4 linked regions of the Homo sapiens genome follow. The protein of the gene in region 2 purifies or fractionates together with the protein of the main gene of each other region. This does not show direct contact. Each region holds a gene or a part of one and is shown on either strand. Other genes may lie near its edges. The genes, in order: TSC22D3, NRBP1, DNA2 and TSC22D1.

Evidence for each region.
Region 1: the proteins of NRBP1 (region 2) and TSC22D3 purify together in Homo sapiens (affinity purification with mass spectrometry; 5 studies listed by BioGRID and IntAct, with this or other methods). This does not show direct contact.
Region 3: the proteins of NRBP1 (region 2) and DNA2 purify together in Homo sapiens (affinity purification with mass spectrometry; 2 studies listed by BioGRID and IntAct, with this or other methods). This does not show direct contact.
Region 4: the proteins of NRBP1 (region 2) and TSC22D1 purify together in Homo sapiens (affinity purification with mass spectrometry; 6 studies listed by BioGRID and IntAct, with this or other methods). This does not show direct contact.

What each region holds. Positions count from the first base shown.
Region 1 is NC_000023.11:107,772,066-107,780,211, forward strand, and holds the start of TSC22D3 (TSC22 domain family protein 3), read right to left. Parts: upstream 3,723-8,146; 5' UTR 3,355-3,722; coding exon 3,035-3,354; intron 1-3,034. UniProt on the Homo sapiens protein: Protects T-cells from IL2 deprivation-induced apoptosis through the inhibition of FOXO3A transcriptional activity that leads to the down-regulation of the pro-apoptotic factor BCL2L11.
Region 2 is NC_000002.12:27,430,956-27,439,115, forward strand, and holds part of NRBP1 (nuclear receptor-binding protein), read left to right. Parts: intron 1-2,293; exon of another isoform or gene 2,294-2,298; 5' UTR 2,299-2,318; coding exon 2,319-2,528; intron 2,529-2,717; coding exon 2,718-2,840; intron 2,841-3,033; coding exon 3,034-3,135; intron 3,136-3,515; coding exon 3,516-3,605; intron 3,606-3,766; coding exon 3,767-3,807; intron 3,808-4,177; coding exon 4,178-4,272; intron 4,273-4,767; coding exon of another isoform or gene 4,768-4,791; intron 4,792-5,797; coding exon 5,798-5,881; intron 5,882-6,091; coding exon 6,092-6,150; intron 6,151-6,306; coding exon 6,307-6,405; intron 6,406-8,160. UniProt on the Homo sapiens protein: Required for embryonic development. Plays a role in intestinal epithelial cell fate and proliferation, thereby involved in the architectural development of the intestine potentially via the regulation of Wnt-responsive genes.
Region 3 is NC_000010.11:68,419,974-68,426,973, forward strand, and holds part of DNA2 (DNA replication ATP-dependent helicase/nuclease DNA2), read right to left. Parts: intron 2,918-7,000; coding exon 2,724-2,917; intron 2,632-2,723; coding exon 2,542-2,631; intron 2,457-2,541; coding exon 2,252-2,456; intron 1-2,251. UniProt on the Homo sapiens protein: Key enzyme involved in DNA replication and DNA repair in nucleus and mitochondrion.
Region 4 is NC_000013.11:44,433,331-44,441,490, forward strand, and holds part of TSC22D1 (TSC22 domain family protein 1), read right to left. Parts: intron 3,963-8,160; exon of another isoform or gene 3,846-3,962; intron 3,529-3,845; exon of another isoform or gene 3,299-3,528; coding exon of another isoform or gene 3,174-3,298; intron 2,766-3,173; coding exon 2,714-2,765; intron 1,554-2,713; coding exon 1,296-1,553; 3' UTR 685-1,295; coding exon of another isoform or gene 635-684; 3' UTR 1-634. UniProt on the Homo sapiens protein: Transcriptional repressor. Acts on the C-type natriuretic peptide (CNP) promoter. Acts to promote CASP3-mediated apoptosis.

The sequences.
Region 1 (8,146 bases), on a different chromosome or scaffold from region 2:
CACAGCCCTACCCTCAAATTGCTTATACTCTTGTGTTCCAAGGAAACCAAGAACGAAGCTGGGAGCCAGGGACAGGTCAAAGCAGACAAACCAGATGTAAATCAAGAATGTGCCCTGCTCTTCTTCCTAAAAATATAGGAGCCCTCTTGGCAAAGGAATGGACTGCAGGAGGAGGGGTGGGAGACTAGCTTCTCCAGCAGGAGAGGCCTTGAAAGTTGACAAAGGAAAAAAGCACCCAACAGGAACCTGAAATGTCAAATCATTAAATTGAATAGAAGTAAAAACGATGGCTGAAGTATGATGATAGAAACCCAGGGAATTTAATGAAGTAACAAGGGATATGTTCACTTAGGAGAAGGCTGTCTACCCCAGATATTGGAGAAGCCCCATGACCAGCAATAATGGTCTTCTAGTTTGCTAATGAGCATGTCATACTGGGCAAAACCTAAACCGAATTCAGAATCCCCAGTCTCTAAGGTCCCAATTGTCAAGGAAAACAAGAGGGGATCAGTGGCTCATGCCTGTGATCCTGGCACTTTGGGAGGCTGAGGTGGGCAGGTCGCTTAAGCCCAGGAGTTTGAGACCAGCCTGCACAACATGGCAAGATCCCGTCCCTATAAAAAAAAAATACAAAAATTAGCTGGGCATGGTGGTGTGTGCCTGTAGTCCCAGCTACTTGGGAGGCTGAAGTGGGAGGATCGATGGAGCCCAGGAGTTTGAGGCTGCAGTGAGCTGTGATCATGCAACTGCACTCCAGCCTGGGTGACAGAGTGAGACCCTGTCTCAGGAAAAAAATAAATAAATAAAAATAAATAAAAGCAAGAGAATACTTTGTCCTCTTAGAACTATAAGACTGTTACCACAGGACCCTGTTATTCCCAGCCTTAGCGAAGCCTGAGAGCTTGCTGGTTAGCTCCTCACTGGTTTTGAACGCTGAGTGAGTTGCTCTGATCGAAGGAGGCAGGGTGCTCACACAAACCTTTCCTACAATTTGCGCTTCTCCCTCAACCAATACCTATAATGCCACCCCACTACATCTCCACCCTGTAGCATTTCCAGGCTTTGCCTAAAACCAAGAGTCAATAAACTCGTATTAGTGGAGTAGATGACAAAGGAGGTATTCCCTTTCCACAAACCCAAACAACCAGGATGCTCCCGAGGTGTGGCAGAAGGAAACACTTTGATCTCAGGCTTTTAGCCTCACACTTCCCTCACCCAGGTTTGACCCTCCTAGGGCCAGAACCAGAAGAGGCGCCCCCTCTCACACTTTCCTAAAGCCTGGAGTGGCAGTTTCTCTCCCAGTTGAACAAATGCAAATGCTACAAGCGCTCTTTCCAGGTTTTTCTACTACCCCTCCCCCACTGCCACTCTCCAACAGAGACAGGCGGGATCCTTAGGAGCCTGTTAGGGCTTTCGCTTGGCAGGATTTCAACGTCTGTGGGCTGAATACACTTGTAGTAATCTTTCACTAGAAATGAAGATTCCCTCGAAACCTTTCTGCCCGCAGCCTGGTTTATTTTATTTTATTATTTTTAAAAATTCAGCCTGGTTTATTTTAGACAATGAGATAATTTGATGCCTAAAGTGAAATAATAGATGAGAAAGGGCTTCAATGGTGTCGAAAATGCCCGAGGAATACGACTTGTTATAATAACACTAACGAGGTTAGCGGCCCTGCTTGTCTTGCCCAGAATCACTGGGGCTGGGCTGAGCGGGAGGCGATGGTGGATTTGTCTTGGGGCAAGGGAGGCAAACCTGCTCTTAGCATTAAGTGAGAATAGCGCCTGCCTTTCTCGATTGCTTTTAAAATTTCCTATTTGAGCCTGCTTGCATTCTAAATATTTTGTAGGTGCTCAGAATTTCTTATCACTTTGTCTGGGCACATCGCCTGCCTACAGCCTAGAATCTCAGAGCTAAAAGGAACCTTGGAGAGACTAGAGAGGTCAGGCGACTTGCTCAGGCTCATACAAACAGGTGAAGCCATAACTTGTACTACAACCCAGGTCTCCCACAGTGGCGATGTCTTTCTCTTACATAACCTGTGTTGTTGAGCAAGAATAAATCCTCGCTTATACACTCACACACACATGTTGGTGCCCTATCCTGATGGCGCTAAGGACACTAAATCCATGGCTGGGTTTCCTGATGTTGTCTGCCCTGCCTCTAAATTGCCTCAGTTGTTCCCAGAGACTGGTTCTTGCCAGAGTGTCTCAAACTGAAGGACAGCAGCTGCCTTGGGTCTTCCCATTGTGTTTTTTCCCTCCCTTGTCCTCTCCTTGCCTCCCCAGCAGGATTTCTAGAAAGCTTGACCGGTACACCAATACACGCCTGCAACGACATGGATTCATCCGCCCTCCTGCCACACATAGTTCTTGAGGCACTCAAGATGTCCTAGGGTGCTCTCTGGGGTTGCGCTTAGCTTACATTTGAAATTTAACGCTGTGATCCATGGAGGAGGCGAATCCCTCCCATCCAGAGGCTCAAGAAATTCTCACAAGTCTCTGATTTTTAAAAATTTTCCCCTCCCCATCTCCCTCTCCTACCACCAGCAGTTTAATTTGTCTTGACATTTTGCTTGCCCTCACTGTCAGTCAGGGGCACTCAGTAATTTTAAAGCCCTTGTAGTTTCAATCTGATTTTGCACATTTGAGATGGGCTTTTGAGAAGGGTAGAACTTGGAACTCAAGAAGACCCCATGGCAGAATCTCCAAAGGGGCTATGGAAATGTATGCATTTGAGGAGCGGGTACTTTCAGCTACCTCCAAACCATCTGGGGTCTGCCCACCTTCTAGGCCCCAGCGTCCCCATCAGAAAGCCTTTGCAGGCAGCTTTCAGAATAGGGCTTGCACCTGCCAGTCCTCCCCTCAGCTCCGCGGTACTCCAGGCAACCTCAAGGTCCAGTCACTGTAGCCTGAGTCAGACCTCCCCAGTACCCCTCCTGAACTTCCTAGTTGCCCCTTTTGCCAGAGATGAGGGTGCAGCAGAGGCTGGTGGGAGCAAGGACCGAGTTGCCGCCGTGTGCCGAGCCACCCACCTGTGGAAGAAGAGCAGGATGGAGAGCATGGTCTGGTCGATGTTGCGGTTGCAGATGCCCTCGTTGATCAGGTAGCAGGGGTCCCGCAGCACCGGCTCTAGCGAATCCTGCCGCATTATGCTGTTGAGCTTGTCGGTATTGAGGTTCTCAAAGACCAGCTTTTCCTGCAGCTGCCGAAAGTTGCTCACTGTAGGGCTGCCCGGGTTGTTGTTCTCCCCGCTGCTGCCTCGCTGGAGCCCACTCCGATGGGCCAGGTCCAGGCAGCAGTTGCAGCAGTCGAGGCCGACAGGTGAGCGGCAATCGAGCTTGGACTGGGCCATCTTCTCAGGCTCGGAGGTCGCCTGGCCTGCGAGGTCAGGGGCGGCTGGCAGGTGCGCGCCCACCGAGCTGGCCTGAGGGGACTCCAGGGTGCCTGGAAAAGACAAGCTGTGAGGAAAAGAGTTGGAAATTAGCGCCTAAAGCCAGCCACCTTCGGCTCGGCCCCCTTCTGGCTGTACTGCTCCGGGTGCGAATAGAAACAGCTGGACAAACAGCTCCGAGCGGATCCTTCGGGCTCACTTCCTCCTCTTCCTCCTTCTCCTCCCCCTCCTCTTGAGGCCGGGGGCCGCCCCCCTGAGGTGCCACACGCGGCCCCAGCGCAGTCCCAAGTTTCCCAAGTGTGAGCGGGGATTGGGGCGGACCTGTGGAGGCAGGAAGGGCGGGCAGCAGGGCAGAGGGAGAGCCAGGGCGCGCCCTTGCTCCCTCCCTCCTTTGCTCCCTCCCTCCCCGGTTTGCAGGCTCTCAGGCTCTCGGGCTCCCCTGGGCTGTGACGGCTGAGCGGTGGCAGGAGCTGAGAGCGAGTGAGCTAGTTAGCGGTCTGCACGCCCGGGAGTCAGCACTGGGATATGACAGCATGTAAATTACCCTAGAGGGGACGGCGGAGAACGGTCCTCCGCCACTTCTCCGGCTGGCGGGCGGGGGCCCCGAGCGGCTGGATCCTGTCCCTCCACCCCTCGCCCCACCCCGCCCGCACCCTTGTGCCCTGGCATCCACGCTGCCGCTCGCACCCTCGCCCGCGCTCCTGGGAGCCGGCCCGGCTCTCACTCTCTCGGCGAGCCGGACGCTTCGGTTCAGGCTCTTTCAGCGCTCATGGCGCATCCTCCGCCAGAAATACGCACGCAGCCCACCCGGGCTGCCGTGCCCCCTCAGTGGCCCGGTCTCGCGGGGCTCGAGCTCGGCGTGAGGGCAAATGTCTCTAGTCTCACCTCGAATGGGTCCCCCTACAGAAGAGACGACGCCCTCGAGAGCCCCAAGTGTTGTAGCCTTAAACTGCCGCCCTCCAAAGCCCCCCTTTTTCTGGGGGGGGGGCGTGCAAGGAGAGCGGTTGCCTCTGCAGAGAGTCAGAGAGTGCCAGGCACACATTAGGAGTACCCAATAAATGCCGTAAGCAAAACTCAGAGAAGCACGCTCAAACTCTCCTCAGTTTCTGTCTCTTTCTGCTTACTTAACGATATCGTCACCTCCTTTCCCCAGCTCGCTGTGTCCTCTCTTCCCTGAACCCCTCAGAGGCAGTCTCTGTCCCGGTTTCCCTCTGCCCCTTCGCCGTCTCTCCTCAGTCCTCCCCTTCCTTCTCTCTGCTCTTCTGCTTCCACTCATTCCACTATTTCCCTTATTTTTTCTCTTTTCTTTACCCATTTCCTCTACTTTCTCCCCCATTTCCATTCTTTTACCTTTCTTTCCTTATTTCTTTTCTCCTTTTCTCTATTTCCTCATTTCCCCTTTCTCCCCTTTCCTCTTTTCTCTCATTTTTCTCTCCCCTACCCCCGCCATTTCCCTTATTTTCCCCTCATTTCTTACTTCAGCACCCCCTCTTTTTCCTCACTTCACTTACCTTCTCCTATTTCTCCAAATTTGTTGTCCTTCTCCTTTTCTGAACCTTACCTGCCACCTTAGTTGATCTCCGTCTGTCGTTACCCTTTCAATAGATGTAGCGATTGCATGTTCACAGGCCTGAGGGGCGTGCCCCAGCTCTGTAAGATGGAGGGATGTTCTGGGTGGGCAAGTGGTGGGTTTCCAGGGTTTCTCAGGACTCAGAGACTTGGAATACTTTAAATGTGTAGGATTAAATAACGATTAGTGTCTGAAAAAACTAAACTTTTCATGACGTTCAGTTTTCACGTAAAACTGACTTACATTTCAGTCAGTACTCCCCACCCCCGCATCGGCTCCTTCATTCACAAGTCTGGCCTTTGAAATAGAGCAGCATATACTGCCATCTAGTGTCCAAGACGTTGAACGTTCTCTGCCTGCGTCACAGAAGCTCGGAGAGGCACCAGAGGTACCTCCTGGTGGAATCCACAGTGCGTTGGTTCCAAGAGTAGCAGGGAAGAAGTGTAGGAGGCGGAGCTGCTACACTAAGAGAGTTCTGTGGCCAAGCTAATAGGCAGGAACACGCTCCTACACTAAGAGAGCTCCAGCTAATAGGCAGGAACACCAATTAGGGCCAGAGCCGCCCTTTTTTCTAGTGGAGCTTCACTTGGCCTGAGTCCCTGCGGATTGGACTTCCATAGATTTGAAACTTCCTCCGGGTACCACAAGCATCAGGCCTGTGATTAAGAGCAAAGAGCGGCCAACTATTGTAACTCTTATTCCCAAGGCCCTGTGGGTCCTATATGTGCCCTGCAACTTGGGGAAAATGGAGGTGGGGTTGTGGTCTCTATGCTGTAGCAGCCGGAAAGCCAAAAACAAGCCGTACTTCTCGCTCTTGACAGGATCCCAAGGTCAGAGGTGAAAGAGGTGCTGGGGGTCACTGACCATACCTGCAAAACTGAGAGTATGGTCCTTTCGTTCTAACAGACTGCTGAGGAGTCTCTATTTCTCCTCTCAAAAGCAAACCCTTTAGATGTATTAATTTCCCTTTTTCTTCTTCTTCGCTTTTTTTTTTTTTAAATGTTCTTGGGTAAAAGCCAGAGGAGGTAGTAGAATATGAAATTTCATCTGCATTGTGTAGACTTATAGTCTACTAAATTGTTTTGTAATTACAGTGTTTATGTTTTTTCCTCTTGTTTATAATTATTTCATGTTAAACGTTATAGCAAAATATATTAGACCCATAAATGTTTATTTAAGTTGTGTTTTGTGAACTGCTGGGACTTTTGTTTCTATATTTGCCTGAGTCCTTTTATCTTTGTGCATAACCTTGGGATGAGGCCCTGGTAGAAGTATTTCCTTCTTGGCATTTGGCACCATTAAACTCAAGATTCTGTCCCCTTGACATTTCCCTTGTTGTAGTCCTTGCTCTCAAGCAGTATTGTTAATAATTCAGTACAGCTTTCCATACTATATCCAGGTTGATCAAGAGTAAATATAATTGAGATATAAAAAAACTACATAGTTCAGAGATAGAGTTCAGGAGCTGGTATGTATTTGCATACAAGTCCAGCTTGTATTGACATATTGCACACCTCCTCAGGAGAAGGCTGACTGGGCAGGGCCACCTTGGCTCCCTTCTGTGAAGCCTTGCTTTGCTGACATATATTGCGTTGGATGGAGAGACTCCAAGCAGCAAAACGTTTTGCATAAACTAAGAAAGCGGAGGGGGGCCCCCACTTCCAGACAGAGCTGGTAGCTTTCTGGGTGGAGCAGAAAGAGGGTATAAGGGGCATCTCTTTCTTGGATGAACTCATTCAACAGTCACTGTGTGCTTGTCCTGTGTCAGGTATAGTGTAAGTGGGGATTCAGAGGTAAACAAAACAGGACAAACTCCCAAAGACTTCATGGTCTAGCTGCAGAAACAGAGCTGCAGACAGACAAAAACAGTACAAATACTAAGTGGTAATGGAGGCCTGGTGTGTGTAGGGGGAATAGGGGGTGGCATGTCTTGGGTGTGGAGGAGGGGTTAGCTCTGGCAGAAGAGAAGGACAATCTAGGTAGAGAGACTAGAGAGACTAGTGAACAGAGGCTTGGGGCTGAGAACAGTGTGTATGCTGATATCCGGGTGTGGATTACAAAGCAGTTCAGTGTTACTGGAGAATAAAATGTGAGACATGGAAGCTGGTATAGTTATAGAAGTGCTTGTTATTAATGTAATAAATAACAATATATAGAAACAACTCTCATAACCATGGCAAGTTGAAAGTAATGATAATTGTAAACATATTTAAAGATACCTGTAGTAACAGTAATGTGACATAAAATTGTGATTTCTATTGGGGACAAAGTCACAGGTACCACTAACACTATCGTGATCTGTTCTCTGCATTTGTAGTTGAAGGAAATCTAAATTTTAGTTAGAGGTTGGTGAAAACAAAGATGTAATATTTTCCCATCTAAGTTAATTTATCCCCTGAATATTTATTTATTTACTTTTTTAGAACGAGTCTTGCTTTTGTTGCCCAGGCCAGACAATGGTGCGATTTTAACTCACTGCAACCTCCACCTCCCAGGTTCAAGCGATTCTCCTTCCTCAGCCTCCCAAGTAGCTGGGATTACGGGCATGTGCCACCACACAGGGCTAATTTTGTATTTTTAGTAGAGACAGGGTTTCGCCACATTGGCCAAGCTGGTTTGGAACCTCTGACCTCAGGTGATCCACCCGCTTCGGCCTCCTAAAGTGCTGGGATTACAGGCGTGAGCCACCGTGCCCAGCCTATCCCCTGAATTTTTTTTTTTTTTTTTTTTTTTTGAGACAGAGTCTCGCTCTGTCGCCCAGGCTGGAGTGCAGTGGTGCGATCTTGGCTCATGCAAGCTCCACCTCCCGGGTTCACGCCATTCTCCTGCCTCAGCCTCCCGAGTAGCTGGGACTACAGGTGCCTGCTACCACGCCCGGCTAATTTTTTTGTATTTTTAGTAGAGACGAGGTTTCACCATGTTAGCGAGGATGGTCTTGATCTCCTGACCTCGTGATCCGCCCGTCTCGGCCTCCCAAAGTGCTGGGATTACAGGCGTGAGCCACCGCGCCCAGCCTCCCCTGAATTTTTAGGGGTCCCTGTTCTAAGGCCAGGTGCTGTGGCCCATGCCTATAATCCCAGCACTTTGAGAGGCCGGGGTGGGCGGATCCCTTGAGGCCAGGATTTCAAGACCAGCCTGGGCCACACGGCAAAACACTATCTCTACAAAAAGTACAAAAATTCC
Region 2 (8,160 bases):
GTATAATACTTTTTCCTATAAAAGTTGTACCTTGAGTTATTTATACTTGTAAGAAATAACCTAGGCTGGGTGTGGTGGCTCACGCCTGTAATCCCAGCACTTTGGGAGGCTGAGGCGGGCGGATCATGAAGTCAGGAGATTGAAACCATCCTGGCTAACACGGTGAAACCCCATCTCTACTAAAAATACAAAAAATTAGCTGGGTGTGGTGGCACGTGCCCGTAGTCCCAGCTACTCGGGAGGCTGAGGCAGGAGAATCGCTTGAACCTGGGAGGCGGAGGTTGCAGTGAGCCGAGATTGCACCACGGCACTCCAGCCTGGGTGACAGAGTGAGACTCCATCCCCTCTGCCAAAAAATAAATAACCTATATCAGATCTAGTCCCCCAGAGAATGGAAACTTCAGAGCCTTTGAGCAATGTGAATGAAATGAAAGCTGGAAGCTTAAAGTCTTAGCTCTGGCTTGAATTTGTGGCTGCTTGAATGTGGGCATTTATTTTGTTTGTTATTGTATCTCAAGGACTTAGCCCAGTGCTTGGCCCACAATAAATGCTTAATAAAACATCTGTTAAATGAGTGAATGAAAAAAAAAATGTTGTTAACCAATACCCATTTGTCACACTCACATCACAGGAAAGGTGAGGTCATCAGGGATGAAGTCACTAACAACTGCCAGTCATGTGCCCCAAGGGTAGCCTCACCATGGACTAGTGGGCTTGTTCTGTGTAGAGAAGGGATGGATAGTGAATGCCAAGGTTAGTTCTAGCTGGATAAATTAGCCAAGGGTTTCAGCTGGATAAGTTGGCTGAGGGTGCTACAGGTCTAGCCTTAAGGCTGTCTCACTGAAACATTTTGGAGTCTGGAGTCATCTGTTCTGAATAGCGCCCACATAGTTTATATTTTTTTATTTTTTGAGACAGAGTCTCACTCTGTTGCCCAAGCTGGAGTGCAGTGGCACGATCTCAGCTCACTGCAACCTCTGCCTCCCGGGTTCAAGTGATTCTCCTGCCTCAGCCTCCTGAGTAGCTGGGACTACAGGTGCGTGCCACCACACCCAGCTAATTTTTTTATTTTTAGTAGAGACAGGGTTTTGCCATGTTGGTCAGGCTGGTCTCGAACTCCTGACCTCAGGTAATCCACCTACCTCGGCCTCCCAAAGTGTTGGGATTAAAGGCGTGAGCCACTGTGCCCGTCCACACATAGCTTAATTCTTGAGCACAGTAAAAATAGGGTGTACTTGGGGATTCAAAGGGAAGCCTATTGGATGAGTATTTGCCAAGAAGGAATGGAGCACCTGATTTTGCTGGTGATTTGAACCTTACTCTAAGTGGGATTAGACTGCCATAAATCTTGTGTTTGTCATTCCTGGGAGGGTCATCTTCAACTAAGATAGCTCCCCTTTTCTAGACTAGAGTTAGGAGAATAGTTAATGTTTCAGTATTTAGGACTGATTCTGATTTTGGATTTAAAGGAAACAAAGGTGGTGTGTGTTTTCTATTTTTAATTTTTAAAAGTTTTGTGTAGAGACTGGGGTCTTTTTATGTTGTCCAGGCTGGTCTCAAATGCCTGGCCTGTTTTATTTTCTTTTGAATTTGCAGATAAGTATTAGGATTATTAAATCTTTTTTTTTGTTTGTTTGTTTTTTGTTGAGACAGGGTCTCCCTCTGTTGCCTAGCCAATGGCATGATCATAGCTCACTGCAGCCTCAAACTCCTGGGCAATCAAGTGATTCTCCCATCAGCCTCTCGGGTAGCTGGGACTATAGCTGTGTACCACCTTGCCCTGCTAATTTTTAAATTTTTTTGTAAAGATGGGGTCTCACTTTGTTGCCCAGGCTGGTCTCAAACACCTGGCCTCAAATGAACCTCTTGCCTCGGCTTCTCAAAGTGCTGGGATTACAGAGGTGAGCCACTGTGCTCAGCTGGATTACTAAATTTTTTTTTGAGATGGGGTCTTGCTCTGTCACCCAGGCTGGAGTGCAGTGGCGTGATCTCAGCTCACTGCAACCTCCACCTCCCTGGTTCAAAAAAATTCTCCTGCCTTAGTCTCCTGAGTAGCTAGGACTACAGGCACGCGTCACCACACCCAGCTAATTTTGTATTTTTAGTAGAGATGGGGTTTCACCATGTTGATCAGGCTGGTCTTGAACTCCTGACCTCAGGTGATCTGCCCACCTCAGCCTCCCAAAGTGCTGGGATTACAGGCATGAGCCACCACGTCCAGCCTGGATTACTAAATCTTTACAGATGTATCCTGACTTTCTCTGCCTTTTCCCTCTGTATTTGCCCCAACCAGTGCAGGCCTGAGTGTTCCTTCCAGCATGTCGGAGGGGGAGTCCCAGACAGTACTTAGCAGTGGCTCAGACCCAAAGGTAGAATCCTCATCTTCAGCTCCTGGCCTGACATCAGTGTCACCTCCTGTGACCTCCACAACCTCAGCTGCTTCCCCAGAGGAAGAAGAAGAAAGTGAAGATGAGTCTGAGATTTTGGAAGAGTCGCCCTGTGGGCGCTGGCAGAAGAGGCGAGAAGAGGTAAGGTTATGGTACAGTTACTCTTGGGTGAGTGAATTCTGGAAAGGTGAGAACTGGAAGAGCAAAGTCTTAAAAGAGGCCAACCAAACTTCAATAGGTTGGGGGCTAGGAGGAGATGATCATATGGAGTGTTAAAATGGAGGATTTGTGAGATAAGTTTAATTCTCTTTCATATGAATTTCTTCTCAGGTGAATCAACGGAATGTACCAGGTATTGACAGTGCATACCTGGCCATGGATACAGAGGAAGGTGTAGAGGTTGTGTGGAATGAGGTACAGTTCTCTGAACGCAAGAACTACAAGCTGCAGGAGGTAGGTGATGCTGAAAAGGTGAAGCCTGGGGAATGTTGGAACACTGATGTTAGAGAGGAATTGGTGTTGGGAAGCTGCCCGTGAGGAGAGTATGTTGGGGTTAGATCGTTTCTGGGGAGGGATAGGGAATGGCTTCTCAGGATTATTACAGTGATTTGTGACTCTGTTATTCCACTGTCTCCCTTGCTTTCAGGAAAAGGTTCGTGCTGTGTTTGATAATCTGATTCAATTGGAGCATCTTAACATTGTTAAGTTTCACAAATATTGGGCTGACATTAAAGAGAACAAGGCCAGGGTAAGAATTTTTTCCCCATATTTCCTGAACTTATTGCAAAGAGACTAGCTACATTTATTATTGTTCCTTTTACACTCAGAGATTAAAACAAGGTAGTTTTGAAACAGAACTGGAATCAGCTGCAATGGCGATAAGAGTAGGGCTTCAGTTGTCACCTATGCCTTTTGTGTGGCTATAGATTGGGCAGAAAATGAGTGAACTTTTGCTTCTTTCTTCCCATAACTTTCATTGCTTGTTTTCATTGCCCTATTTAGTCTAAGTAAGTAAAGCTAAGAACAAAAGGAGAGAAATTTTAACAAACCTTCAAATTTAAAATATGTTAACAAGGGAAGGGATCATTTCTACTATAAGGCCTTTTAGTAAGTGCTTTGCCTCCCCAGGTCATTTTTATCACAGAATACATGTCATCTGGGAGTCTGAAGCAATTTCTGAAGAAGACCAAAAAGAACCACAAGACGATGAATGAAAAGGTATAGAAGGAGAGCAGACAAAGTTTGAGGCTGGTTTTTGGGGGTGGTTTTAAAAAGGACTCTGTTAATAATGAAGCTGATCAGGAAGGGACGGAAGGAGCTAGTGGGAGAGAGTTAAGAGAGGGAATTACTGCTGACCCTTGGATCCAACTTTGTTCCAGGCATGGAAGCGTTGGTGCACACAAATCCTCTCTGCCCTAAGGTAAGTAGTACCTGGTTAGTTTCTTACCCATATTTCCTGATGTAGTTACTCCAAACAGATTTCAGGGCACTACTCTTCTGTTCTATTCTGCCTCTCCCCACTTTCTTTGAATCATATACTGTCAAGATTAGGGCCCCTACGGGTCTTTTAAAGGGTGCGTCCTAATGCCCTAACCACGACACTTATCTCCTACCTCTTTCTCCTAGTGCTTATCCAGCTATTTAAATCATCAGGCATAATGGAGATTCAGAGTGTGGGGATTATCTTTATGGTGACCAGCAGGAGACCTGGCCCTTGCTCCTCTTAACCCTTGGGTTCCCCCTGCCCTTAATTTCCCAGTGGCCCCTCTAACAGCCCAGTGCCCCCACAGCTACCTGCACTCCTGTGACCCCCCCATCATCCATGGGAACCTGACCTGTGACACCATCTTCATCCAGCACAACGGACTCATCAAGATTGGCTCTGGTGAGGGGAGGGAGAGGTTCTGGGCAGGGGAGCCTCGGGAATTTGGGAACCATGGGGGTAAGATGAAAGGAATGGGGGATAACAGAGCAAAATTCTGAGGTGTGGGCTGGTGAGAAGAGAAAGGACCTTGCTAGGAGTAATTAATAGGAGAGGCCAGTTAATTAGTGGAGAGGGGGTAGGATATATAATCTTACACCTTTTTGAAGGGAAAATTGGGGTTAATACAGAGATACTGATAAGAGGCTGGGAAAGGGCAAGAGATAGGTTTGAGGTTTGATTTGAGTCCTGGGGCCAGACCCTGCCAGAGGAGGTTCCAGGCTGTTCCTGCTGTGAGTGCTTTCGTTTGCTGTGTATTGTATGCAGTGTACAACATTTCTGTGTGCTGTGTCTGTGTGGTATTTGTGTGTCCATTTGTCTGGGGCTTGGCTGCTCCATCGCTCACAACTTTTCTCTGTTTTCCTCCCTCCCGCTTACGGGCTGCTCTGTTCCCAACAGTCTTTCATAGGATTTTTGCTAATGGTGAGAGCTCCCTCTGCCCCACTTGGGGCTCTGTTTGTGCTCCCTCTGCTCCCTTGGCGGCTGCCCAGTGCATGCAGTCGTGGGAGCAAACCCTCTTCCCCTATCTTCCCTGCCTAATTATGCCTGCTTAGCTTCTGCCCTGCCAGCCCTCCGCCTGCTTGCCCCTTCATAACCTGCTTGTTTCCTGTGGATTCTGCCTGGCTGGCCACTTACCTCCTGGATTCATGTTCTCCCTCATCATCAGGCTAGTTCCCAGATCATACTGTGCTCCCAGATTCTCTGTGACTTGTAGTCATTGTTTATGATCTGAGTGAGTCCAAATTGGGCCTGGTCCTGGTTCCTCGTTCAGCTCTGTGGCAGACAGTGTTGAGGAATAAGGGGGTAGAACAGGAGTCTAAAATGTTTTGGTGGATTAAAAGTGGAACAGATTCAAGGGTATTAGCTCAATTCTGAGCTGTTTTGAGTTTCACTCAGCAAAGGTGGGTAAGAAGGAGGCTACCTCCTGAGCTGTATGTTAATACTTCTTATCCTTATTTATCCAAGTTCCTGAGGTCTCCAATTGTCCCAGATTAGGAAGGGCTGCCTGTGTTTTTATGTTATTTGCAGGGTGGATGAAAAAACTAAAACCAAATATTTTCATGTGAGCAGGGATTAGAGGTACCTGGGATTTAGGGAAGGTGAACGCAGTACAAGTGAAAATTTTTCCTTAAACTTCATTGCTTCTAGACCAGCCTGAAGCCCCTGTGTATCTGTTAATTTAGTCTGGTGCTTTTGTTGCTCCTGATTTAGGGACATTAGATGAGAAGCAGTAGGCCTAAGAAAGGGGAGGTAGGTGGCATCCATGTGTGGTCTGTAGTTCAGGACAGGAAAGGGAATATGTTTGTGCCTGTTGAGGGTCATCAGAAAGGAGACTTCAGGAGAGAATTTGGCTTTTGGGGCCTCTCTCTGGAGTGAGACTATTCTTCATTGATGATGGTCAGATTGTGGGTGTCTCCCCTACTCCCAGTGGCTCCTGACACTATCAACAATCATGTGAAGACTTGTCGAGAAGAGCAGAAGAATCTACACTTCTTTGCACCAGAGTATGGAGGTGAGCCTTCCTGCTTTCTCTGCCCTGTCCTCATCCCCCTGCTTTTGCACCTTATAACTTGAGGTACAGAGGCAATATAACTGAAACTTCTAGGCCTTCTCTACCAGCATACAAAATATTTTTCTTTTCTTTTTTTTTTTTCCTAAGGCATTCCTGCCAACCCTAGCCCCCAATCCTCTGATTAACCAAAGCCTTCTCTGTTTTCCCTAGAAGTCACTAATGTGACAACAGCAGTGGACATCTACTCCTTTGGCATGTGTGCACTGGAGGTGAGGGGACTGGAGGGGAGGGGGGAAAGGGGTCAGATGAGAAGATGGAATTGGGAATGGAGGGAAGACAAGTAAGGCGCTGGCTTGGAGGGAGTGATTGTGGGAGCACTGAAGTTCTTAGGTGTCTACTTTTTTTTTTATTCTTCCTCACTGAAGATGGCAGTGCTGGAGATTCAGGGCAATGGAGAGTCCTCATATGTGCCACAGGAAGCCATCAGCAGTGCCATCCAGCTTCTAGAAGACCCATTACAGAGGGTAAGGATCTTCAGGATCACTCCCTCCTCAACTGACCTTCAAATGTCTTCTGGTTTTTCTTCCTTTGTACCCACTGGGTATATGCTCCTAAGAGCTAGGGAACATAACAGAAAGGACACGAAAAATCTATAAACATTTTCTTAGGAGGTGCCTACCATGTTTTTGCATAGAAACACACAGGTAAGGGGGTTAAGATGGATGATGCTGGGGTTAAAAGTTGTGTGTTGGAAGCCGGGCATGGTGGCTCACGCCTGTAATCCCAGCACTTTGGGAGGCCGAGGCGGGCGGATCACGAGGTCAGGGGATCGAGACCATCCTGGCTAACATGGTGAAACCCTGTCTCTACTAAAAATACAAAAAAAATTAGCCAGGCTTGGTGGCGGGAGCCTGTAGTCCCAGCTACTCAGGAGGCTGAGGCAGGAGAATGGCATGAACCCGGGAGGCAAAGCTTGCAGTGAGCTGAGATCGCGCCACTGCACTCCAGCCTGGGCGACACAGGTAGACTCCGTCTCAGAAAAAAAGAAAAAAAAAAAAGTTGTGTGTTGGCTGGGTGCAGTGGCTCACACCTGTAATCCCAGCACTTTGAGAGGCTGAGGCGGGTGGATCACTTGAGGTCAGGAGTTTGAGACCAGCCTGGCCAACATGGTGAAACCCTGTCTCTACTAAAAATACAAAAATTAGCTGGGCATGGTGGTGTGTGCCTGTAGTCTCACCTACTCGGGAGGCTGAGGCAAGCTTGAACCCGGGAGGCGGAGATTGCAGTGAGCTGAGATTGGGCCACTGCACTCCAGCTGGGGCAAGAGAGCGAGACTGTCTCAAAAAAAAAAAAAAAGTATGTTAATTTGAATGTGTCTACATGGAGGTAAATTAATTTGATGGTTACTTCAGGCCATTGCTGTATACTCTCAGACAGCCATTTTTATATTTTTAAGCACATCAGTCAATTTAAATTAAACCAGTTGTTTGGGATTTTATATTTATACAGTTTTAGTTAGGGACGGTGGCCTGAAATAATGAGCTAAGATTTAAAAGACATAAGGTTATGAATCAGTTGATAGACTATAGTAAGCAGAGCCTGGGCAGGAAGGTCCAAACAAGAACAGTTTGTAACTCATTAGATAAGTATAGTAGGGAACAGGAGAGAAAAGAAGACTAGTGGGAAGTCAGGAGGATAGTGTGGAGTAAGTTTCTACTTCAACATTGAGGTGGAGTATTCAAGTGAAAGATTAGGTATGTGACCTTGTTAGCCTTCAAGGTTAAAAGCAGGAAAGCAGGTTAATTGTCATGGGACATGCAGGAGGTAGAAAAGGAGGCGGTGGTGGAACATGGTGGCTCATACTTTTAATCCCAGCACTTTTGGAGGCTGAGGTGGGAGGATCACTTGAGCTCAGGAGTTCGAGACTAGCCTGGGCAACGTGGTAAAACCCTATCTCTATGAAAAAATAAAAATTATCTGGGTATGGTGGCACATGCCTGTGGTCCCAGCTACTCTGGAAGCTGAAGTGGGAGGATTGCTTGAGCCCAGGAGGTTGAGGCAGCAGTGAGCTGTGATTGTGCCACTGTACTCCAGCCTGGTTGGCACAGCAAGACCCTGTCTCAGAAAAAAGAAAGAAAGAAAATAAGGCAGAATCGTTAGAGGAATCCTGGGAAATTCGGTGAATTCAGTGATTGTGGGCAAAGGAAATTGTGATACTAGGCTTGTGAAATAAAAAAATGGTGAATATTGATCACATTGGGTAAGTTTGGGAAGAGAGA
Region 3 (7,000 bases), on a different chromosome or scaffold from region 2:
CTACCGACTTGGAGATGAAAAATAGCTTTGTCTAAAAGATGAAGGTGAAAGAATCAACAAAAATGAATATTAATATTAGTCACTTTCAGAAAGCCACGCAGAGGCCACCTATCTGAAACATGCTATGATTGAGGCTAAAATACCTACGAAAGCTGATCACACACTGAGCTTCAAATACTTCACTTTGTTATCCCCCATTTTACAGGAATCAAAGGCAGAAAAGAATAAGTAACTTTCCCAAGGCCTCACAATAAACTGTGGCACTACTATTTGAACTTAGGGTGGCCGGGCGCGGTGGCTCACGCCTGTAATCCCAGCACTTTGGGAGGCTGAGGCAGGCGGATCACAAGGTCAGGAGTTGGAGACCAGCCTGGCCAACACAGTGAAACCCCGTCTCTACTAAAAATACAAAAATTAGCTGGGCGTGGTGGTGCGTGCCTGTAATCCTAGCTACTCAGGAGGCTGAGGAAGGAGAATTGCTTGAATCTGGGAGTCGGAGGTTGCAGTGAGCTGACACAGTGTCATTGCACTCCAGCCTGGGAGTCAGAGTGAGACTCCGTCTCAGAATCAAACAAACAAACTTAGATCTGGGTCGTATATCTGTGCTCTTTCCATTTTCTTGTCCCCTTTTATACAAATAATGGAGCAGATAAAACTGCTGTCCTACCTCCTGATACATCTCTTCAAAGACTACTTTCCTCCTACATCATCCCTAAGCAATCTTGATTTTTTTTTTTTTTTTCTGAGACACCAGGAGATTGCACCACTGCACTCCAGCCTGGGAGACAGAGCAAGACTCCATCCTAAAAAACAAAAACAAAAACAAAAAAGTCGTTGTGCAGATTTCTTTTTAATGACTGGTTTGTAAAAAGGTCTTCATGTGCATATGTGGGGGAGGGAGGTTATGAGAAACCTCTGTACTTTCCACATAATTTTGCTATGAACCTAAAACTGCTCTAAAAAATAAAGCTTTTTTTTTTTTTGAGATGGAGTTTCACTCTGTCACCCAGGTTGGAGTGCAGTGGCGCGATCTCGGCTCACCGCAACCTCCGCCTCCCAGGTTCAAGCGATTCTCCTGCCTCAGCCTCCCAGGTAGCTGGGACTACAGGCGCACCACCACACCCAGTTAAGTTTTGCATTTTTAGTAGAGACAGGGTTTTGCCATGTTGGTCAGGCTGGTCTCGAACTCCTGACCCCAGTGATCCACCCCCCTCGGCCTCCCAAAGTACTGGGATTACAGGAGTGAGCCACTGTGCCCGGGTTTAAAGTCTGTTTTTTAAAAAGTCTTTAAAAGGACATCAATTTATTATACCCTCTGTCCATTTGTAAACCCAGCCCTTTGATAGTATCAGTGCCATTTCCTTTTCTAGGAAATAGAATTATACCCCTGAGTTCACTTTGTGGCCTTCCTTCTTCAAAAGTCAATTTTGATATCTACTGACCTCCAGAATAAACCTCCTCCAAAAAATACTGGGCCTATAGAAAGAAAGACTATTTTGGGCCGGGCACAGTGGCTCACACTATAATCCCAGCACTCTGGGAGGCTGAAGCAGGCGGATCATTTGAAGCCAGGAGTTCAAGACCAGCCTGGCCAACATGGTGAAAGCCTGTCTCTACTAAAAATACAAAATTAGTCTGGTGTGGTGGTGGGTGCCTGTAATCCCAGCTACTTGGGTGGCTGAGGCAGGAGAATCGCTTGAATCTGGGAGGAGGAAGTTGCAGTGAGCCGAGATCATGCCACTTGGGCAACAGAGCAAGACTCCGTCTCAAAAAAAGAAAAAGAAAGGAAAAAGAAAGAAAAGACTATTTTGGGTTGAAGTATGAGAAGTACATTAGTTTTGCCTTTTTTTTTCCCCCCAAGATGGGAGTCTTGCTCTGTCACCCAGGCTGGAGTGCAGCAGTGTGATCTCAGCTCACTGTAACCTCCGCCTCCCGGGCTGAAGCAATTCTCATGCCTCAGCCTCCTGAGTAGCTGGGATTACAGGCACCCACCATCATGCCCAGCTACTTTTTATATTTTTAGTAGAGACAGGGTTTCACCATGTTGGCCAAGCTGGTCTTGAATTCCTGACCTTGTGATCTGCCCGCCTTGGCCTCGCAAAGTGCTGGGATTACAGGTGTGAGCCACCACGCCCAGCCTAGTTTTGCCTTTTAACTGATAAGCTCTAATTAGGGCATGTGCTAATGAAAACTGAGAAATTTAAATAATAGGACAAAATGAGAAAAACTAAACAGAAATTTTTTTTTTTACCTTGTCTGTATTAAGGAAACAAACAGGATTGTTGGGTTCAAATACTCCCATCAACCAAGGATTATCAGAATAGTCAGCATAAAATTCCAGTTCCAGCTTCACATCTTTAAAGTGACGTAGGTTTATCACTGCATTGGCCACTTTGTCTGATCCACACTCCAGCTTGCCCTCATAGGTCAGCTTATTACTTAAGGACATAATTTTACTAAGGGAATTACAAAAGATAACTTTAGTTTTGGTAGATGGAAACAAACATGAAAACCACTCCTAGCTAACACTGTTACAAATACCTGTTCATTCTGTACTGCACGGTTAACTGTACAACAGCACTCTTATTCTGCTCCAGCCTCTTGAATAAGCTTTCACTCATGCCAAGAGCTCTGTCAATAAATCAGATTCATGTTTATCAGTGTACTAAATCTGTTCCTTGAAAATAATCTAGTTTAAAATTAACACTTAAGTGTCTGCCTACCTTGCTTCACGGTTTAGCACCAGGGGAGGAAGCTGCTGATGGTCCCCCACTAACACAAATCTCCGTGAAAAAAAAAGGGGGCCCAGACAAATTGGTTGGCTAATTTGAGAGGCTTCATCCACAATACAAAAATCAAAAATTTTACGGGAAAATATTGGATGGTTTATTCCCATACATGTTGTTGCAACTATAAGCTAAAAACAAGGAAAACAGATCAGTTATTTAACATGTAAAAGAAATGTAGTTTTGTTTCTCTCATTTTTGAAATGAAAAGATCAAAAGGTTTTTGTTCTATGGCATCAGGAATCCTTCGATATTATTTAATTCTGAAATATTTATAGCATGCAAATTTTAATTTTTTTCTACAAATTAAAAATAATCAAGTAAACTTTCCAGACACTATTGAACAATGCTCACATTTGGATATTTCCCAGTGGAAATCTGGAACATTCAAGAGGTAATAAGTTAGTTCTTTTTTTGTTTGTTTGTTTGTTTGTTTAATGTCAACCAGGACTTTGCTTCTGGGAAGATGGAGTACTTTTCCTTATTCTTTCCACAAACGACAACTAAAATCCCTAGGCATTATATATAAAAAAAAAAAACAAAAGAAGACTCTGAAAGGTGGAGAGAAGGCAGACCAGCTAGGGAGCTCAGGACCAAAGAAACAACACAGTAGTTGATTCCCTGGGCTTTCTTTTTGCCTCATAGATCCCAGATTTGGAACTGAAGGAGCCACGGCACACCAGTGGGTGCTAAAAACAGCTGCAACCAAAGTCTGCTCTCTCCAGCTGAAGGAACAGGAAAAGGAAAGCCTAGCTAGACAGAAAACTTTCACACAATAACTACTCTAGCCAAATATCACTGGAAAAAAAGTACAGCCCCACAACCACAGACACCAGCAAACAGGGAGGAGGGTAGATCTCTGCCCTTCTCAAGGCTGTAACAAGGTGCCCCACACCCCACCAGGCGGGTGTCAGAGAAAGCCAAGTAGGGAGTCAGGTCTTTCATCCCCGATGACTGGTAACTGGCACCAACCCCACATGTTAGTAGAGACCACATCAGAAGCCTAGACTTCCACCCCAACCAAGTGGGCCCAGCGGTAACGAGGAACCTCCCACTTTGGTCAAAGAAGGCTGAGTGGGGAACCCACACTTCGACTCCCACCTGGCAGGAATGAGGTGGTACCCCTCTTCCCCTACCATGGCAGTGTGAGAGGAAGCCAGCTAAAACAGAAGTTTTCAGTAACAACAAAATATGCTCATGTTTCAATAAAAAAATCAATAATTAAAGACGAACCAGGAAAATCTCAAACTCAATGAAAACAGATGACAATCTATAAATGCCAACACCAGAATGACAGAGAGGTCAGAACTATCTGACCAAGATTTTAAAGCAGCCACGGTAACAACATTTAATGAGTAATTATGAACACGCTTGAATATGAACCAAAAAACAAAGTCTCAGCCAAGAAATAGAAGATAGAAAGAATAAAATGGAAATTTTAGAACTAAAAATATGATAACTGGGCCAGGTACAGTGGCTCACGCCTGTAATCCCAACACTTTGGGAGGCCAAGGTGGGCAGATTGCTGGAGCTCAGGAGTTTGAGACCAGCCCGAGCAACACAGCGAAAACCGGTCTCTACAAAAAATACAAAAATAAGCTGAGTATGCTGGCATATACCTATAGTCCCACCTACTTGGAGGGCTGAGGCAGGAGGATCACTTGAGCCAAGGAGGTCGAGGCTGCAGTGAGCCTTGATCATGCCACTGAACTCCAGCCTGGGTGACAAAGTGAGTCACTGTCTCAAAAAAAAAAAAAAAAACAAAACAGGCCTGAGGCCGCCGCTAGCCGGAGCATCACCATGAAGTTCAATCCCTTCGTGAACTTGGACCGCAGCAAAAACCGCAAACGTCACTTCCATGCCCCCTTGCACGTGCACCGGAAGATCATGTCATCCCCGCTCTCCAAGGAGCTGCGGCAGAAGTACAATGTCCGCTCCACACCCATCCGCAAGGACGACGAGGTCCAGGTAGTTCAAGGACACTACAAAGGTCAGCAAATTGGCAAGGTAGTCCAGGTGTACAGAAAGAAAGATGTCATCTACACTGAGCAGGTGCAGCGTGAGTAGGCCAACAGCACAACCGTCCACGTGGGTACTCACCCAAACAAGGTGGTTATCACCAGGCTAAATCTCAACAAGGATCGGAAAAAAATTATTGAACACAAAGCCAAGTCTCGACAAGTCAGAAAAGAGAAAGGCAAATATAAGGAGGAACTTATTGAGAAAATGCAGGAATAAATATAACCTGTTGTGCAACCATGGTTTAACTGAGATTTTTAGGCTAGTGTGTGTTTCTTTGGAACTTTTCAGAATGTCTCTGGAACATTTCTTTTTTTTTTTTTTTTTTTTTTTTGAGACAGAGTCTTGCTCTGTAGCCCAGGCTGGAGTGCAGTGGCATTATCTCGGCTCACTGCAACCTCCGCCTCCCAGGTTCAAGCGATTCTCCTGCCTAAGCCTCCCGAGTAGCTGGGATTACAGGTGCCTGACACCATGCCCAGCTAATTTTTTGTATTTTTAGTAGAGGCAGGGTTTCACTATGTTGGCCAGGCTGGTCTCGAACGCCTGACCTCGTGATCCACCCGCCTCGGTGTTCCAAAGTGATGGGATTACAGGCATGAGCCACTGGGCCCGGCCATGTTTGTGTTCTTTTTTTTTTTTTGAGATGGAGTCTCGCTCTGTCTCCCAGGCTGGAGTACAGTGGCGGCGATCTCGGCTCACCGCAAGCTCCGCCTCCCCGGTTCACGCCATTCTCCTGCCTCAGCCTCCCAAGTAGCTGGGACTACAGGTACCTGCCACCATACCCGGCTAATTTGTTGTATTTTTAGTAGAGACAGCGTTTCACCGTGTTAGCCAGGATGGTCTCCATCTCCTGACCTCGTGATCCGCCTGCCTCGGCCTCCCAAAGTGCTAGGATTACAGGCGTGAGACACCGCGCCCGGCCATCTCTGGAACATTTCATTTCCTGTTTTGTTACCTGAGGCTCTGTAAATCTACTTTTGCAAATTTAATTAATAATTTTATAAATAAAAATGGGAAATGTTTCATAATTCAAAAAAAAAACAAAAACCCCAAAAACCCAAAAAACAAATACCAGGCCAGGCGCTGTGTCTCACACCTGTAATACCAGCACTTTGGGAGGGCAAGATGGGTGAATCACTTGAGGCCAGGAGTTCAAGACCAGCCTGGCCACCACAGTGAAACCCTGTCTCTAATAAAAATACAAAAAATTAACCAGGCATGGTAGTGCATGCCTGTAGTCCCAGCTACTTGGGAAGCTGAGGCATGAGAACCATCTGAACCTAGGAGGCAGAGGTTACAGAGAGCCAAGATCGGGCCATTGCACTCCAGCCTAGGTGACAGAGGAAGATTCTGTCTCAAAAAAGAAAACCTTCAGCATCTGGGGCTAGACAGAGTTCTTAGACTTGAGACCAAAAGTATAATCTATAAAAGGAAAAAATGTATATTCCGGACTTCCTCAAAAAAAAAAACCTTTTGCAGCCGGGCACAGTGGCTCACGCCTGTAATCCCAGCACTTTGGGAGACTGAGGTGGGCGGATCACCTGAGGTCAGAAGTTTGAGACCAGCCTGGCCAACACAGCAAAACCTCATCTCTATTAAAAATACAAAAATTAGCCAGGTATGGTGGCTCATGCCTGTAGTCCCAGCTACTTGAAAGGCTGAGGCAGGAGAATCGCTTGAACCTGGGAGGCAGAGGTTGCAGTAAGTGGAGATCACACCACTGCACTCCAGCCTGGGTGACACAGTGAGAGTCTGTCTCAAAAAATAAATAAATAGGCCGGGCGTGGTGGCTCACACCTGTAATCCCAGCACTTTGGGAGGCCAAGGCAGGCAGATCACAAGGTCAGGAGATGGAGACCAACCTGTCTAAGAGACGGTGAAACCCCGTCTCTACTAAAAAAATACAAAAAATTAGCCGGGCATGGTGGTGGGCGCCTGTGGTCCCAGCTACTTGGGAGGCTGAGGCAGGAGAATGGCGTGAACCCGGGAGGCAGAGCTTGCAGTGAGCCGAGATTGTGCCACTGCACTCCAGCCTGGGCGACAGAGCAAGACTCTGTCTCAAAAAAATAAAATAAATAAATAAATAAAACTATCTTTTGTTCTGCATAAGACCCTATGAGGAGGATAAAAAGCAAGCGATAGAGTGGGAGAAAATACCTGCAAACCACATATCCATTAAAGGGCTAGTATTAGAA
Region 4 (8,160 bases), on a different chromosome or scaffold from region 2:
GTCTCTTCTCTTACCTGCTGAACAACTCAATGTGTCAATTTCCTTTTACTTCATGCAGTCAAATCACGCCCCTACTTTTCCAATCATTCCACTGCCCTTCAGGATTTTACTAGTCAAATTGTTAACTTTACCTGGAAACAGTTGTGGAAATGACTGCCATTATGTTAACAGGGTCATATGAAAAACACTTGTTTATCAACATTTATATGCTTTATTGAAAGTTGACAAGTGCAACAGTTAAATACAGTGACACCTTACAATTGTGTAGAGAACATGCACAGAAACATATGCATATAACTACTATACAGGTGATATGCAGAAACCCCTACTGGGAAATCCATTTCATTAGTTAGAACTGAGCATTTTTCAAAGTATTCAACCAGCTCAATTGAAAGACTTCAGTGAACAAGGATTTACTTCAGCGTATTCAGCAGCTAGATTTCAGATTACACAAAGTGAGTAACTGTGCCAAATTCTTAAAATTTCTTTAGGTGTGGTTTTTGTCATGTAGCAGTTTTTATGTAGATCTATATATAAAAGTCCACACCTCCTCAGACAGCCAATGAAACAACTAAATTTCAATCTGTACAACCTAAATAGTAGTTACAGTCCTCTATTGTACAAAATAGTTACACTACATACACAAATATACAATAAGCAAAACAACCTTCATGGTAAGATAGCCTAGGTCCCAGCTACCTGTCACCATTTTGTCACTCTCATAGTTTTGTGTCATCCATTGTTTGAGAAGAAAGAGGCACAGTACTATTGTTTTTTATGAATTTTGGTGACAGTTGTCAAATTTGTACAGTGAACTCTGTTCCCCCTCATTTTAGTCTTTTTACCCTCCTTTCAAGTTCCTCCTGGGGGGAGGAGAGGAGAGAGGCGAGTCCAGTGAGGAGCTCCATCGCTTCACAACCCCATGTAGGACACTAAGCGCAAGCAGGAGAGAGAACCCTTGGAAGTGAGGGGTAGGGAGCCGGAAGGGATGGAAAGGCACACAGCTCCTGAGCATGAATTAAACCATTTCTCAGATATCTGCCAAGCTGCATGAGGTCCCGGTATATCCATGCTAATTCTCGGATTAACCTTTAATTCACCCAACTAAGAAATTTCTCCAAGCCATAAGCATATGAGTGTTTAATACTGGAAAAGAGATAATGGCATATGTCAGTCTCACGTCTCTTTCGCAGCGAGCAATGAAATGGGTGACTGTGGAGGCAGATTCTCCCTAGCACATCTTCTCCGTCTGTTCAGTTCACACGCAGCAGCCAGTTCTGCGGGGGCATAGGCAGCTATGCGGTTGGTCCTGAGCCCTGCGATGCTGGCTGGGCGGGGGGCTGTGTGGTGCCCTGTGGCTGGGTGGTGGCAGGGGGGGAGCCAGTCTGCAGCTGGGCCTGAAACTGGGCAAGCTGCTCAGGACTGGCCAGTGTCTTCAGCAGATTGTTCTCCTGCTCCAGCTGGGAATTTTTCTCTATTAGTTCTTTGATTTGCTCTTTGAGGACCTCCACTTCTTCTCTGACCGCATACATCAAATGGCTTTTCACTAGATCCTGGAAAGAAGACAGAAAAGGTTTAACTCATTATTTGGTATTTTCTGGACTCTTTTGAGTTTCCAAGACATTATTTTACATGGATCTCCCTAACTATTTACATATTCCACCTTTAAAGTTGGTTCAATGACACTTGGGGAAATCTGAATACAAACATGACTGTACAATACTTGAGTTTAACGTATAAATGATCAAGCTTTGTAAAAGTCTGTGCTTCTCTGCAGACGTTGGCCAGAAACGCCCAAGTAAGGCTTCCTGAGACTGGGCCAGAGCCGGGCGCTGGGTCCCCGACTGAGACCAGCAGCGGGGACGTCCAAGCCACAGCGCGCCCACCGCGTCCCCGCCCCCAGGCCCCGCCCCGCGCTCGCCCGGAGCCGCCTCCTTCAGCACCGGCTGCAGCCAGTTCCTACCGAACATGTTGCCGCATTTTCTTCCCTCCACCCCGCCCCCCTCTTTTCGTGATTAAGCTGACATCACAGAAACCTGGGCAGACGTCGCAGCCAATGGGAGCCCGAGTTATTTATAGCTCCGAATTAAAGGTTCAGAGTTTGCCTAGCAACAGTGGGCAGAGAATCCCGTGAGAAGAGCCACAGGCGCTGCTCCAATAACAAAGAACGGCCAAGGCGGAAATAAAAAATAGGAGAAATCCAGGCGCAGGCTAAGAAAACAAAACTTTTTCTCTGATTCTTCTTCATTGTGAAGGAGCCCGCGCCACCGGGGACCCGTTTGTGCACCGTCTAGAAGACCCTTATCCAGGATCCCGACTTCTGGGGCCCTCCCCACCTCCCGGCTCCCTAGTAAAATATTAGGATTCCTAGTAAAGCCACATCGCTAAAGGTGTGCTCACGACCAGCCGAAGGAGATAGTTGGCCAGCGCTTCCCTAATAAATCCCCAGCAAAAAGGGTCACCGTGAGAAAATCCCGTCGTGTGAAACCAGTCCGGGGAAGAAGACCATTTAATACCCGCAGGGCCCCTTTCTCCCTCCACGGCTGCCGTGGTAGGTGGCTCCACGCTGGCCGAATGGAGACAGCGCCGGCATTTCTACGCGCATCAAGAGCAATCATCATCATCTGAACTTAGGGATGCACTGGTTCCACAAAACATCTTATTTTTGTGCTGTGCCCACATTTAGTATAAATGATTTTTCATCAGTACATACCATAGCTTGCTCGATTTTGTTGTCAATAGCTACCACACTTGCACCAGAGGAGCTGAAAAAGAGGAGGGAAAAAGGTCATCGATAAATGGAATTTATCTTAAGCTTCCAAGATAAAAAGGATCTCCCAATTTTGTGATATTGCTAGCATCATATTTTGAATGTTATTTAACACTATGTAATGTATCACCCTCCAGAAAATGCCAGCCCCTCTCTTACTAACGAATATCCAGGCATCTCCCTATTTTAGTAAGCCACAAAGGACTAAATTACATAATGTGGGGAAAGCCTGTTCTCTGGCCAGACTTGCAAAAATAAGGTTTTTTAACATTTCGAAAAACAACATCCATGTCACCATAATCTCTCAGCAATGGACAAAGGAATTCGCCTGGCTATCTTTCACCTGTATTATTATAAGTATCCCACGAATAAATTTAAAGAAACTATCTTAGCCGACATTTACCTATTATCAAGTCTCACAGAAGCGTTTTCAGTCCCCAGCAAGGATGACAAGAAAGAAATTGAAAAATGTCTCAGTTGGTAAACTCCTAGATCCATCGCCACTGGTCTACACCATTGGGATTTCATGCAATTGCAGCCAAAAACACCCTCGTGGAAAAAAAGAGGGAACACCAGCAGCCTTGTATAAGCTAGATAAAATCTTCTGGCTTTCCGCAGCCCAGGGAGAAACAGAAAACGGCAGCCCTAATTTAAAGAAACCCAGCTTCTAGGGCTTGATGATCCCAGGCAGATGCGGATCCCAGTGCCGTGAAGAGGCGCTTCCCAGATCCGCAGCCGGGCTCCACTCAGCTCTAGACCAGGACTCCCAGTCTTAGTGCAAAATATATGCAGGAAAGAGCTGCGCCGATTGGCCGGCACGCCACTGGGACCGCCCCCTACTCCCTTCCAGGTCCTCCCGCTTCCCTGCTTCCCCGCCTCCCCCCACCCCCACCTCCGCCCCCATTCTCCAGATCCCGCTCGTGGGGTGGGCTGGCCTGGCGCGGGCCGTGCTCAGAGGGAGTGGGGTGCTGGGTTCGGAGGTTTCCACGGCGGCCTCAAAACACTGGGCCATTGCTTCGGCAGAAAATGTGAAGGGTCCCTGAAAAATACTATGGGGGCCCCCACACGTGCTTACGTTTAAGGGAGTCAGACCCCGGTCCCCGGAGCTGTGTCCCGCGGCTGCTTAACGGCGAAAGCTTCCTATTTGTAACCCGAACCGTCTGAGCTACTGGGCATGCCCAGTCCCACCACTGTAAGACTTCGAGTGTCTTGATTTCAATTATCTAGTTCTTACCGGCAGCGGTACTGGGAGGATTTTATAGACGGTTTTATTTTTAAAGATAATAATCACCCTGCAATCATGTATTTTTTTAATTTTAGAGGAAAAAAAATCACATTTGCTCTTTGAGAGATACTACCTTTTGTTTTATAGAAACAAAACAAAAAACATTATATATTCTTTGCTAGGCATGAGGGAAAGACTCCAGATAAAATCCAGGATCTTCCCAAAAAGCCCGTAGAGCCACAAACCTTAAAATCACATCTCCCTATTAGCATCTTCTCCCTAGTAACTAAATATGCCTTCTTCTATTTAGACCCAAAAAAGTCAATCCACAGGTTGAATTCCACATAAATCTATTTTTAGTTAAGTCCCTAAGGCACGTTTTTGCAAGCTGAGTGACAATTCCTCTAAGACTCAATCCCTCAATCCTATGAGCCTTCTTACATCAGAGGGATTGAAATATTATAAAGTATGTATTCAAAGCATACAAATCCTTGAAGTTAGTCTCTGCCCATTTGCAGTGTCCAGAACCAGAAAAGGGAGGATATAATGGTGGTTAAAAATAGTTAAGCAGCCAATAGATGCTGTAGGCTCACCTCTGTTTCACCCTCTTGGCCACACTGACCAAATAATTCCCTTCTCCAAACCAAAATCGAGAGATGTGGGTATAAAATAGCTTAACCCTTTCAAAATTTCCTATATTAATTTAAAATACTTGCAGGGATGCATCAATTAAGGCTACAATTTAATATACTAGAAATCTAAGCCCTGAAGTTTGCTAAATTATAATACAACATAAACAGTTTCCAAGTCAATACATGCGAGAAAGAAAACTTAACCTCTACAATACTGCCCTCTAATGGCATAATATAAAAACCAAAAAATCTACAAAGTACTTGGGGAGACCTCTCTAATCTGTAGATAAAATTGTGTCATCACAAATAATTCCAACATAAAATCTGACCGTAGAACATATATATGTAATACACGCACATGCACAAACACACACAGTCTTCTCTCCAAAATAAGCATCTTTCCTCAAGCAGCATCCTTTTCTAAAATTGCCATCAGATCCATTTAGACAGTTTTTAAGTTGACTCAATGCTGGTAGTGGGGGTAGGTAGATTTGGTTTTCAGAAACTGTCCAAAGTTATTAGGAACCAGACCAGATCGGTAAGCACAGTAAATGATGAAGACCACAATTCTCTTTTGGGTTAAAAACCAAAGTGTGACCAACTATAAAGTGATGAGATTCCCTTTTTACTGAAAGGTTCATATTCTCCAAATTTTAAGGCTTGGCTTTTGAATAACAATAATTGTTAACATATTTATAATTTATAAAAATTACATATATTAACTCATATGATGCTTTAAAAAAAAAGATACCCATTTCCAACAAAAGGAGACTAAGTAGAAGCTTAGAAATCGTAATTATTTGGGAAGCTGGCATGTGGTCCCTATGTCTATGAATGCTAACCAGAATATTATTTACTACATGATAGTCTCTATATTTTGAAAGTTAAAGTTATACCTAAAACTATTTGTATGCTAAATTCCATTTACATGTTTTAACTGAATGCCAACTTCATGAAAAAAGGGTATTAAAGCACCATTTAAGCTATAAAAAGAGCTTTAAAAAACAAAACTCTAAGGTCATATAAAAAAATTTTTAAATTCCAAGCTGCAGTTTTAAAAAATTACTAAATTAACTGAATTTATTCATGCCGTTCTTCAACATAAACAGAAAGCTGTTTTTATTTCAATCATTTTAACTGATCATCCATTGTATCAAGCAAGAGAAGCAAATATAAGCAACCATAGTCTATTTAACCCATTTTCCTATTGAAGGACATTACAGTTATTGTTAATACTTGGATATTTTAAATAAAATTGCAAGGAACATCCTTCTACATACATCCTTGAACATGTATGTGTGTGTGCACACTTCTGGAGAATTTGTTGAGCCAAAGGATAGGCAACTAAAAAAATGATTAGAAATCTAATTTTCTCATATATTTCACATAAATATGCTAGATTCCTTTAAAACTAGACTTTTGTATGAAAACTGAGAAGACATAATTTGAAAAAGAAGGCAAAGGAAATGGAAAGCTCCATGGAGGGAAAACCCTTGGATCAGAAATGTCCGTGGCACAAATGGCTAGAATTACATTCAAAGGCTCTTCTAATTGCAAGACAAACGATCCATATGTCTGGTGCCTCATCAGAGCTCACTGAGACTTGCTGACAGGGCAGAGAAAAATACTACAAGGCTTCCAGGAGAGATCCTTAAAGCCATGGACCATATAAGTCTATTTCAGGCACTGAGCAAAGATCAGGAGGTATCACCTCAGTGGGAACTCATACACATTAAACAGCCTGGACAATTGAGATTGAGGTATTTTCTAGTGTTGTCTGCCTAAAAGCCTTTTTACACAGATTCCAATTCAACTGCTACTGCATATTGGTAGCAAGCATGACAGGATAGGAAAAGAGGAACAGGCCTGAGTGTTTCTGTTTCCTGTAACATGTGCTTTTCTTCCAAACTTAATCTGACTTGGCCAACACCGGTACAGTTGGAGATTCAGCACTGAAATAGAGTAACCTCTTTCTCCCCCTATCCAAACTCCTTGCAAATCTAAAACAACTGCCAGGAAAGAAGCGAAGGCACATTACCCTGTACCTGACCAAATCACTGCTGTCTAAGGACTCCCACGTCACCTCCATTTTTCTAGTTTACTCTCACTAGGCATGGGAATATACTTACCAGGTTTAACAAATGAAACTACAGGACTATCAGTTAAATGTGAATGGCAGAAAAACAACAAATAGTGTTTTAGTGTTGGGTCCCACACACTGTCAAAACAAGAAGAAATGCCAAAGAAATGGCTGTTAAATTCAACCACAATTTACATTTCCTTATCTCCACAGAAAGGCTGGTTGGAAAAAGCTTCCAAAAGAGTAGAACAGTGGCCGGGCGCGAGCGCGATGGCTCATGCCTGTAATCCCAGCACTTTGAGAGGGTGAGATGGGCGGATCACTTGAGGTCAGGAGTTCAAGACCAGCCTTGCCAACATGGTAAAACCCCGTCTCCACTTTAAAAAAAAACAAAAACAAATAAATTAGCTGGGCGTGGTGGCACATGTCTATAATCCCAGCTACTGGGGAGGCTGACGAAGAATTGCTTGAACCCAGGAGGCAGAGGTTGCAGTGAGCTGAGATCGCATCATTGCACTCCAGCCTAGGCAACAGGGCAAGGCTCTGTCTCAAAAAAAAAAAAAAAAAAAAAAAGAATCGGAAAAGAAAAAGGATAAATCTAGGAGGTCCAACATCAAAATAGGATGCATTTCTATTTTGGAGAGAGAACAGAAGGAAGAGAATTATCAAATAATTTAAGAATTGTTCCAGAACTGAAGGACACAAGTCTCCAGTTAAATGAGATGACCAAATGCCCACCACAAGAAATGAAAAAGCCCTCCACCAAAGCACACCACCCTGAAACCTTAATCACTAGGCATAGAGAGAAAATACTAAAAGCTTCCAAATGGAAGAAACAAGTTACAAACACAGGGACTAGGAACAGAACCACTTTGCTGGCAGTCAGAAAAAGATGAAGAAAATGTCTTTAAAATTCTGAGAGAAAAGAGTTTTTTTATCCAGAATTCTTTACTTGGCCAAATCATCATTTGAGTGTAAAGGTAGAATTAAAACATTTTTAGATATTTCAGACACCAAAATGGAGGAGCAAATCAAGAAAAAAGGCAGGCATGGGAAATAGGAACCAGGAACTCAGATACTGGAGGAAAGGAAGGGAATCAGCAGGCTGGAGTGCAGGGAGATCTCAGGGGGACTGCTGCTGGACAAGCCCAAGCTGCAGCTGGTCTGTACCTGGTCTGCAATGGTAAGGGAAGATGGAGAACTCCAGGAGGGAGAGCTTCCGTGCTAATGAACACACAGATTATCTAACACATCTAAGCATTTGCAGGGCACAGGTGAGCTACTGATAGGTGTATGATAGATCTAATGGAACAATTAGATAAGCTCAAAGGCAGTTTTACTGAAAACAGAGCAAGGAAGAAAACACGGAATGCTCATAAAATATACATGACCCATATTATTTTTTCATTTTTTTGTGGATTTACCTTTTAAAAGTTAACTTTATTGAGAAGGT